Linked DNA regions of Homo sapiens. The protein of the gene in region 1 interacts with the protein of each later gene in a biochemical or structural test. Each region holds a gene or a part of one and is shown on either strand. Other genes may lie near its edges.

Region 1 (2,747 bases):
CAAGGCCTCCTTTCCTGTTCTGCTTTCTACCTAAGCCCTGGGCAAATGGCCACAAGCAGTGCAGTCCTGACCAGATTCCTCTCTGAGCTCCTGCCTACCCCAAGGGACTTCACCCCTGAGTGCCCTCCCAGCTGTCTGTTCCACCTGGAAACATGAGAAGGTCACCCTCCCCCTCCTCGGCCAGTCAGTGATCCAGGGCCCTAGTGCTCAGGCTAGATCAGCAGGTGGGATTCCAAGGGAGGGCAGGGATGGGAGGCCCTGCACAGTGACCCCAGGCCTCACCCTGGACTCCAGGGGATAGCAGGTCTTCAGATGTGGGGGGCACACTCGATTGCGCTGCTGCAGCTCTGCAATGCGGTTCCAGTCATCCAGCTGCTCAGGCTCATCCTGGCAAGTGCCCATGTAGAAGCTGTTCCTTCCTGTGGAAGGCAGGGAAGTGGGAACAAATGAGCCTGGAGTCGGCAGGTCACCTCCTGGCCCTGGCATCTTGCCAGCCTTTGCTGCCACCTACCCCATAAACTTGAAGCCCAGCACACCAGTCTGATTCAGTGCCGCAGGTGCAGGAGTACGGCACACAGACTATTTCTATCCTAGGGGCTTGCTCACCACCTTCTCCCTGGAGAGGGCAGAAGAGGTCACACGCAGAGACTGCTACTACATCTTACTCACCTGCCAAGGCTTGGTGGCCAACACCCAGAGGAACAAATTAAGGACCGGGAATTAATTCCCAGGGGCTCCCTGGTGCCCAAAGGACAAGAGCTTCCAAGAAGAGTCTGGCCAGCCTGGCCTTTCCAGCAGCCCATCACCGCCTGAGAAGGGCATGGAGGACTCCCCACAGCTAAGTGTCACAATTGTGCTGGGAATCCCGGGCCCTTAACTCTGGCTAAGAGTGCCCCCAACACAGCCAGCCCCTAGATGGGCAGGTAAGGAAGGCCCTGAGGCTGCAGGAAGGAGGGGCAGGTGGAGCTGGATGGTAGCAAGGAGGCCAGCCTTGGATTTTTAAAAAGCTTTCCTCTTTTCCCTGTGCCACGATCCACCTTCCAGTCTAATTTTGGGGTATAGTAAGTCCCTGTAGTCCCCTCACCTGGAGGGGCCCCACTGGACACCCCGGCCTGGGAACGACGAGCAGAACTGCGAGTGGTGGGGCGGTAGCCAGGCAAGCTGAGCAGGGCTGAGTTGCCATAATCGGGAGAACCCAGGCGAGCTAGAGACTGAGTAGAGGAGGTGGCTCGCAGGCTAGCCTGGGAAGCAGGAGCAGACCGCGTGCTGTAGAACGATGAGTTGGCGCTGTCTGGCTCTTCCACATCTAGCTTCTGGAAGACAGAGTGAATCTGTTGCAGTGTACAGTCCCTGGCACTGTACAGAAGCTTCCCATTCCCTTCCGAAGCCCTCAGATCCCACGGCACATCCATGTATTCCCAACTGCTTTGCAAAGGTCCTTAAAGTGTGTGTCTGCAAGAAATGGGCCTTGTCGACAGAAGCCCTCACAAGGTGGTGCTGATGTTGTCAAGACTCTTCTACGCATTTTTTTCATGGAGTCTATTCATAATGCTTTGAGGTAGGGAATGCAGAGTGTTTATCGGCCCATTTTGGAGATGAAGTGCAAAGAAATAAAGTGACTAGCCCCAAATCACACTGCTAGGAAGTATCAGAGCTGGGGCTAGGCCCCATGTCTCCTGACTAGTCAGGCTCATCCCACAGCCTCTGCTGTCCCTCAGTCCAAACTTCCAGGGCCCTTACCATGTTCCAGAACTTCCCCAACTTCTTGGTAGCAGGGGGCACCCTAAACACACAGGTCCCCCCTGCTGTACCAGGGGCCCCTCTCCCCTCCTCCCAAACCTCCCCTTCAAGATGTGGAAACAAAGGCAAGGGCCTGTAGCCTGTCAGGCAGTCCACTGGGCAGCAACAATGCCTCTCAGCTGCATGGGGCATGCTGGGAGGCACAGGATGGGCTGCAGCTTCGCCACGTTCTCTCCCTTCACCCTGCACAGGCTCAGTGCTACGCATGGAGAGAATGCTAGCCTTAGTCAGGAGGCAGGGATCTAATCCTAGCCCTGCCTTTTTCTTCAGAAGTGCCCTTAACCAAGTCACTGCCCTTTTTAAGACCTCTCAGCTTTCCCACTGTAACATGGACTGGCTGCTCATCCCTCCCTGCTCCTGACTGAGTGCCCAGTGCAAAGATGCCCTTGAGAGGAAGTGGGAATTGCTGCCCTGCAGCCCCTGTCCCAGCAGCCTGACCTTGGTCATGGTGATGTTGATGATCTGCGTGGTGCGCCGACGAGCGGAGCGGGTCTTACGACCCGAGTCCAGGAAGACGTCTCCCAGGGAGTCCAGGCTGCTCTCCAGGGGGGCCTGACTCCGAGCAGGGATGGGAGTGAAGTAGAGACTCTCCAGGGATTCTACCTTGGGGGGCAGGCGCTGGGAGATAGGTGAGGCTGGTTCTCCAGGGACGCTGGTGCCGTCTGGCTGGGTACGAGGCAGCTTGCTATGGAAAGGAAACCTGCTGAGGTACAGTCCTTCACGCTAGAAGGCATTTTGTCCAGCCCTTTTTGAAAGTGACCATTTCCCATCCTTACTACAAGCAGATGAGGTCAAGCAGCCCATCTCTCTGATTTTTCAGAGGTACCAAGGAAAGCACTTGACCTGGGCCTTCCTTTCAGTCCACTCCCCTGGCTTCTCCTAATAGCTCCTCATAGTGGCAATGCCCAGACCCAGATGTCCCATCCCCACCAGATGCCCATGGCTGC
Region 2 (2,734 bases), on another chromosome or scaffold:
AGTAGCACATCAGTAATTCAGTAGACAAAACTTTTGTCTGAAAAATTGCTGTATTGAAACAGAGCCCTAAAATACCAAAAGACCAGGTAATTTTAACATTTGTGGAATCACAAATGTAAATTCATAAGAAGCTCTAATTAAAAAAAAAAAGTCTGAAGTATATGAGCATAACAACTTAGGAGTGTGTCTACATACTTAACTTTTGAAGTTTTTTGGCAACTTTATATACTTTTTTTAAATTTACAAGTCTACTTAAAGACTTCTTATACCCCAAATGATTAAGTTAATTTTAGAGGTCACCTTTCTCACAGCAGTGTCACTTGAAATTTAGTAGGGAAGGATATTGCAGTATTTTTCAGTTTCCTTAGCACAGCACCACAGAAAGCAGCTTATTCCTTTTGAGTGGCAGACACTCGACGGTGCCTGCCCAACTTTCCTCCTGAGTGGCAAGCAGATGAGTCTCAGTAATTCATACTGAACCAAAATGCCACATACACTAGGGGCAGTCAGAAACTGGCTGAGAAATCCCCCGCCTCATTCGCCCCTCTGCTCCCAGGAACTAGAGTCCAGTTAAAGCCCCTATGCGAAAGGCCGAATTCCACCCCAGGGTTTGTTATAACAGTGGCCAGTCTGAACCCCATTTGCTCGTGCTCAAAACTTGATTCCCACTTGAAAGCCTTCCGGGCGCGCTGCCTCGTTGCCCCGCCCCTTTGGCAGGAGAGAGGCAGTGGGCGAGGCCGGGCTGGGGCCCCGCCTCCCACTCACCTGCCGGTGCCTGAAATTATGTGCGGCCCCGCGGGCTGCTTTCCGAGGTCAGAGTGCCCTGCTGCTGTCTCAGAGGCATCTGTTCTGCAAATCTTAGGAAGAAAAATGTCCCTAGTAGCAAACGGGTGTCTTCTGTGCATAAATAAGTACAACACAATTCTCCGAAAGTTCGGGTAAAAAGAGATGCGGTAGCAGCTGCCCTGTGTGAAGCTGTCTACCCCGCATCTCTCAGGCGCTAAGCTCAGTTTTTGTTTTTGTTTTTGTTTTTTTAAAGAAAAGATGTATAATTGCAGGAATTTTTTTTTATTTTTTTATTTTCCATCATTCTATATATGTGATGGTGAAAGATATGCCTGGAAAAGTTTTGTTTTGAAAAGTTTATTTTCTGCTTCGTCTTCAGTTGGCAAAAGCTCTCAATTCTTTAGCTTCCAGTTTCTTTTCTCTCTTTTTCTTTGTTAGGTAATTAAAGGTATGTAAACAAATTATCTCATGTAGCAGGGGATTTTCATGTTGAGAGGAATCTTCCGTGTGAGTTGTTTGGTCACACAAATAACCCTTTCTCAATTTTAGGAGTTTGGATTGTCAAATGTAGGTTTTTCTCAAAGGGGGCATATAACTACATATTGACTGCCAAGAACTATGACTGTAGCACTAATCAGCACACATAGAGCCACACAATTATTTAATTTCTAACTCTCTGTGGTCCCTAGAAAAATTCCGTTGATGTGCTTAGGTTAAAGTTCTGAAGATACCCGTTGTACCCTTACTTGAAAGTTTCTAATCTTAAGTTTTATGAAATGCAATAATATGTATCAGCTAGCAATATTTCTGTGATCACCAACAACTCTCAGTTTGATCTTAAAGTCTGAATAATAAAACAAATCCCAGCAGTAATACATTTCTTAAACCTCACAGTGCATGATATATCTTTTCATTCTGATCCTGTGTTTGCAAAAATATACACATGTATATCATAGTTCCTCACTTTTTATTCATTTGTTTTCCTATTACCTGTAGTAAATATATTAGTTAGTACATGGAATTTATAGCATCAGCTACCCCCAGGAACAGCACCTGACAGGCGGGGGATTTTTTTTCAAGTTGTTCTACATTTGCATAAATTATTTCTATTATTATTCATGTATGTTATTTATTTCTGAATCACACTAGTCCTGTGAAAGTACAACTGAAGGCAGAAAGTGTTAGGATTTTGCATCTAATGTTCATTATCATGGTATTGATGGACCTAAGAAAATAAAAATTAGACTAAGCCCCCAAATAAGCTGCATGCATTTGTAACATGATTAGTAGATTTGAATATATAGATGTAGTATTTTGGGTATCTAGGTGTTTTATCATTATGTAAAGGAATTAAAGTAAAGGACTTTGTAGTTGTTTTTATTAAATATGCATATAGTAGAGTGCAAAAATATAGCAAAAATAAAAACTAAAGGTAGAAAAGCATTTTAGATATGCCTTAATTTAGAAACTGTGCCAGGTGGCCCTCGGAATAGATGCCAGGCAGAGACCAGTGCCTGGGTGGTGCCTCCTCTTGTCTGCCCTCATGAAGAAGCTTCCCTCACGTGATGTAGTGCCCTCGTAGGTGTCATGTGGAGTAGTGGGAACAGGCAGTACTGTTGAGAGGAGAGCAGTGTGAGAGTTTTTCTGTAGAAGCAGAACTGTCAGCTTGTGCCTTGAGGCTTCCAGAACGTGTCAGATGGAGAAGTCCAAGTTTCCATGCTTCAGGCAACTTAGCTGTGTACAGAAGCAATCCAGTGTGGTAATAAAAAGCAAGGATTGCCTGTATAATTTATTATAAAATAAAAGGGATTTTAACAACCAACAATTCCCAACACCTCAAAAGCTTGTTGCATTTTTTGGTATTTGAGGTTTTTATCTGAAGGTTAAAGGGCAAGTGTTTGGTATAGAAGAGCAGTATGTGTTAAGAAAAGAAAAATATTGGTTCACG
Region 3 (3,658 bases), on another chromosome or scaffold:
TTTATTGTTCAGTGTTATTGTTTGTTGACTTGATCTATTTTTTTTTCTCCTACAAAGGGGCCAGTCTGCAAGGACACATCCTGTAGATGGCTAATTGATGATGCCCTATTGTTTAGTGTGTGTGCACTGTGGTTTTATTTGCTTCGGTTCAAAGGGCCTAAACAATGCATTCGTTGGAATTTAGTAACTGCTGTAAAATCAGCACAGAGAACAATCTGTGAGCTGATATTTTTTGTACCCAAATCTGGTAATCTCTGCTTGACTAAAGAAAGCAAAATCTAAAATGACCTTTCAACTAACCATAGAAAAGGCCTTCCATTGAATCTCAAAGAGACTTATTTTTCTACCAAATATAAAAACATTCGAATTATGCATCATTTTCCATGATTCAAAGGAGACAGAGGTGCCTACGGGGCATGTTACTCATAGACAAGTCTATTCTAGTCTAATCACGTCCCCTTAAAAATCACCGAGTAGATGACACCGAGGATGAGAACGAGGTACTGTAATCATTACTTTAGAAACTTTATATTTTTACCTGTTTCAAGACAGAATTCTCCTAGAAAATCTGGAGCAACAAGCTTATTCCCCTTGGAGAGGAGATAACGAATAATGGACCACGCATTCGGAGAGAGGAAGTTTCCACTGGGAGCCCTTCCTGCATCAGTGCGTCTCTGGTTGGGCTGGCTATCTGTGTAGGAAGTGAACGCAGGAAGTATCTGTCTACAAACCCTTTATCCTCAAGGTAATTGCTGTAGCAGCATTTTACTGTTTACCAAAGCAGTAAACATGTGATCTAAAAAAAGATGTTTTCCATCTCCAGAAGAACAAGGCTTTAAAAAATGTATACATGTGCTTATTTTGTAACCAGCTTATCAAAATTGGTTACAATAGGCTTGGGCTTTCAACAGTGAGTCCATGAAAACAGCTCTTGGGATGGACAGAGGTACCCTCACAGGGATGCACAAGAAACAAAGAAGTGGCTTCCTTCACTAGAATGCTATCCTAGCAACACACATTTTATGTCTTTTCTCCTAAGACCGGCTTAACCGAGTTCATACTGTTTGGCTTACAAAGAAGGTAAAGTCAACAAAACTATCTATGTTAATTCAGGTTGGTAGAATGAGTAATTCACAAAGTCCAATAACTCATAAAAGTCACTTACATTTGGCCTTGGACAATATTCTTATTTTTACGTGACTATAAATATGCTTCCAGTTTAGGAGTTCACACAAGACAAAGTGAAAAGTTAGAACTCAAAAGGAGATGTGTAGTGGCTGCTTTTGCTGACTTTTGCCTGGCGTAGGCCAAGCCTCCTGGTCCGTCTTTTCCTTTGTTTCTTTATTCCAGATCAAGCTTGCAAACCTGCACCGTCCCAGATTTCCTGGGGTAAGAGAAGTGATTGTCTAGGAGAGGCAGCTTGGAATGAATAAAAACAGGTCCAGGAAGGATCCCTCAGCATTTAAGAGGCTCAGGAGGGGTCCCCCTCATCATCCTTGTTGTCTTTTGTGTTTTTCAAGCCGCCTTCCAGGTGGATAGCGATTGCAATGAGAGAGAAAGAGTATGGAAGGAGAATAAGAAGAATAGGGAGACACAGAAGTTAACAACGCCCTGAATGTCTCCTTCCAGGACCTGCTGTGCAGTGTCCGGTGAACTCACCAGCAAGCATTTCCCAGCCCTGTTTTAAGCAATCTCCAATGCAGATCAGGTGCTCGTGAATAATTGGGAGCTCACTGTGTCTGTCAGAGTTCTTACTTTATAATGAAGAGATAAAAACATGTTCATCACAGGAAAATGGACAAATTGGCTAATTGAAAACAAAATTCAATTCACAAACTGTTGTAGAAATTGAAAAAAAAAAGGTAGGGGGAAATGCTTTTCATAGATTCCCTGATTTTAGTCTTAGAAGAAAAATGTATTTGGCTTGAATGAATAGTAAAATTAACTAACTTTGATTGAGGAGCTTATGTGTGCCATATACAGTTCTGGGCTCTTGCGACTTGGTGAATCTCACTATAACCCTGTGAAGTAGGAACTATCACTCTACCCATTTCACCGATGGAAAAGCCTATCTCCTGTGAGGCTGTGGCTTGCCAAAGGTGAAATGGCCAGGAAGTAGAACAGCCAGGGAGTGAACCCCAAAAGCCAGGTGGGAGCCCATTTCCCCTGCCCACTGCACGAGACCCCTCCCCGGTTTGAAGATCCGATAGGGGCACTGCTGTTAGCTCCCCCTGCGTCCTGGCAGCAGCACAGTCAGCAGATGGTCACTGTGGAGAAGGCGGAGCTGACCACCTCCATTTTCCTATAAGGGAGCTAGGGCCAGGAGAGGTGCGTTCACCTGGGGAAGTCCTGCAGCATCAAACTAAAGCTCCGGGCCACCCTCTCCCAGATGGGCCTCTTTCCACTTCCCCTTGCCAGCAGCTATATCTATGCCTCCCATCCGTTGCACGGAAGATAAGGCCAATCCCTTTTCCACAGAGGCTATTTTAAGGATGCCACGAAGAAATACAGAGTACCAAGTGCCTCCCTGGGCCAAAGATAAAAGTGGGCTGTGCTCTCTGGATTCAACCTTCATGTTTTTGATGCTCTCTGGAAGGTCAGGGAAGGCACACATATCGTATGGATCCAAAGAGGACTACGCAATGCAAAACCACATACTTTTTTTTTCTTTTTAACTTGGAGCAATGTCTTGGGACATCTACCTCAAATTGAGACACAAACTAATTGTGTTGACAGATTCTAAAGTGTTGTTTCAACAGTTTCTTCTTCCTCAAAGGTGAGCATCATGTGCACACTGTCAAAATTAAAAAAAAAAAAAAAAAGACCCAATAAAACCCGATGAAACCCAAAGAGCATGGAGATGAGAAACTCACTGCTGGCTGACGATCTGAATGAATGGCCTTGGGGGGAATGTGAATGTGGAGGTAGCAGAAGGGTCCTGTCTTCAGTGCTGATTCTGTATCAATACTTGGTAAATTTAAAAAACAAAAAAACCAGCAAGGGAGATTTTAAATCATCAAGGCAGAAGGATTTAAAAAGTGGAATGTGTTAAATGCAAGAGTGCGGGATCTTTGCATAAAGTTATTATATTTTCAAAAATTCGACAAGCATTGTTTTTACCAAACGTGTTTAAAGTAACAGCCCTGAGGTTAATGTTATGATTGGATTCTGATGTGGCACTTTAAAAATAAATCATTTTGCTTGGCCTTAGCATTTCTTTTCAAAATGTCTCTGTACTTATCTGTGTACAACAGCAGATTACCGTTCTTCCCAGAGTTTAATTCCATGAACACCCTGCTGAAAGACTTGTTAAGGCCTTATGGAAAACTCTGACCTGCGTGTTCATTATTGACGCCCAAGACGAGTGCAAGGAAGTTGATACTTGGGATGAGGAAATTTAAATCAGCAGCTGATCTGGAATCTGGAAGCACTGCCCCTTGGATCTCGCCAAATATGGAAAGAATTCTTGTCACTGAGCAAATATAGAATTCAGTGCTAGAGTTTTACCTCTTGAATTTTCTAGAACTTTGTTTTGATTAGCCACCTAGAGTATAAGAATTGCTGCCTATGGGATTTTTCCCAGAAGAGTAGATAACATAAAGTAACCAGCGATAATAATTTTCATTATCCAATTATTTCATGTGTCTCCATAACACTT

What was found.
Region 2: of the proteins of NUMA1 (region 1) and CDK6, one has a biochemical effect on the other in vitro, tested with the Homo sapiens proteins (one large-scale study listed by BioGRID and IntAct).
Region 3: the proteins of NUMA1 (region 1) and ERG form a complex in vitro, tested with the Homo sapiens proteins (one large-scale study listed by BioGRID).

Annotation. Positions count from the first base shown.
Region 1 is NC_000011.10:72,004,951-72,007,697, forward strand, and holds part of NUMA1 (nuclear mitotic apparatus protein 1), read right to left. Parts: exon of another isoform or gene 2,486-2,747; coding exon 2,239-2,485; exon of another isoform or gene 1,314-2,238; coding exon 1,085-1,313; exon of another isoform or gene 595-1,084; intron 420-594; coding exon 283-419; intron 1-282. UniProt on the Homo sapiens protein: Microtubule (MT)-binding protein that plays a role in the formation and maintenance of the spindle poles and the alignement and the segregation of chromosomes during mitotic cell division.
Region 2 is NC_000007.14:92,606,848-92,609,581, reverse strand, and holds part of CDK6 (cyclin-dependent kinase 6), read left to right. Parts: 3' UTR 1-2,734. UniProt on the Homo sapiens protein: Serine/threonine-protein kinase involved in the control of the cell cycle and differentiation; promotes G1/S transition. Phosphorylates pRB/RB1 and NPM1.
Region 3 is NC_000021.9:38,488,402-38,492,059, forward strand, and holds part of ERG (transcriptional regulator ERG), read right to left. Parts: intron 1-3,658. UniProt on the Homo sapiens protein: Transcriptional regulator. May participate in transcriptional regulation through the recruitment of SETDB1 histone methyltransferase and subsequent modification of local chromatin structure.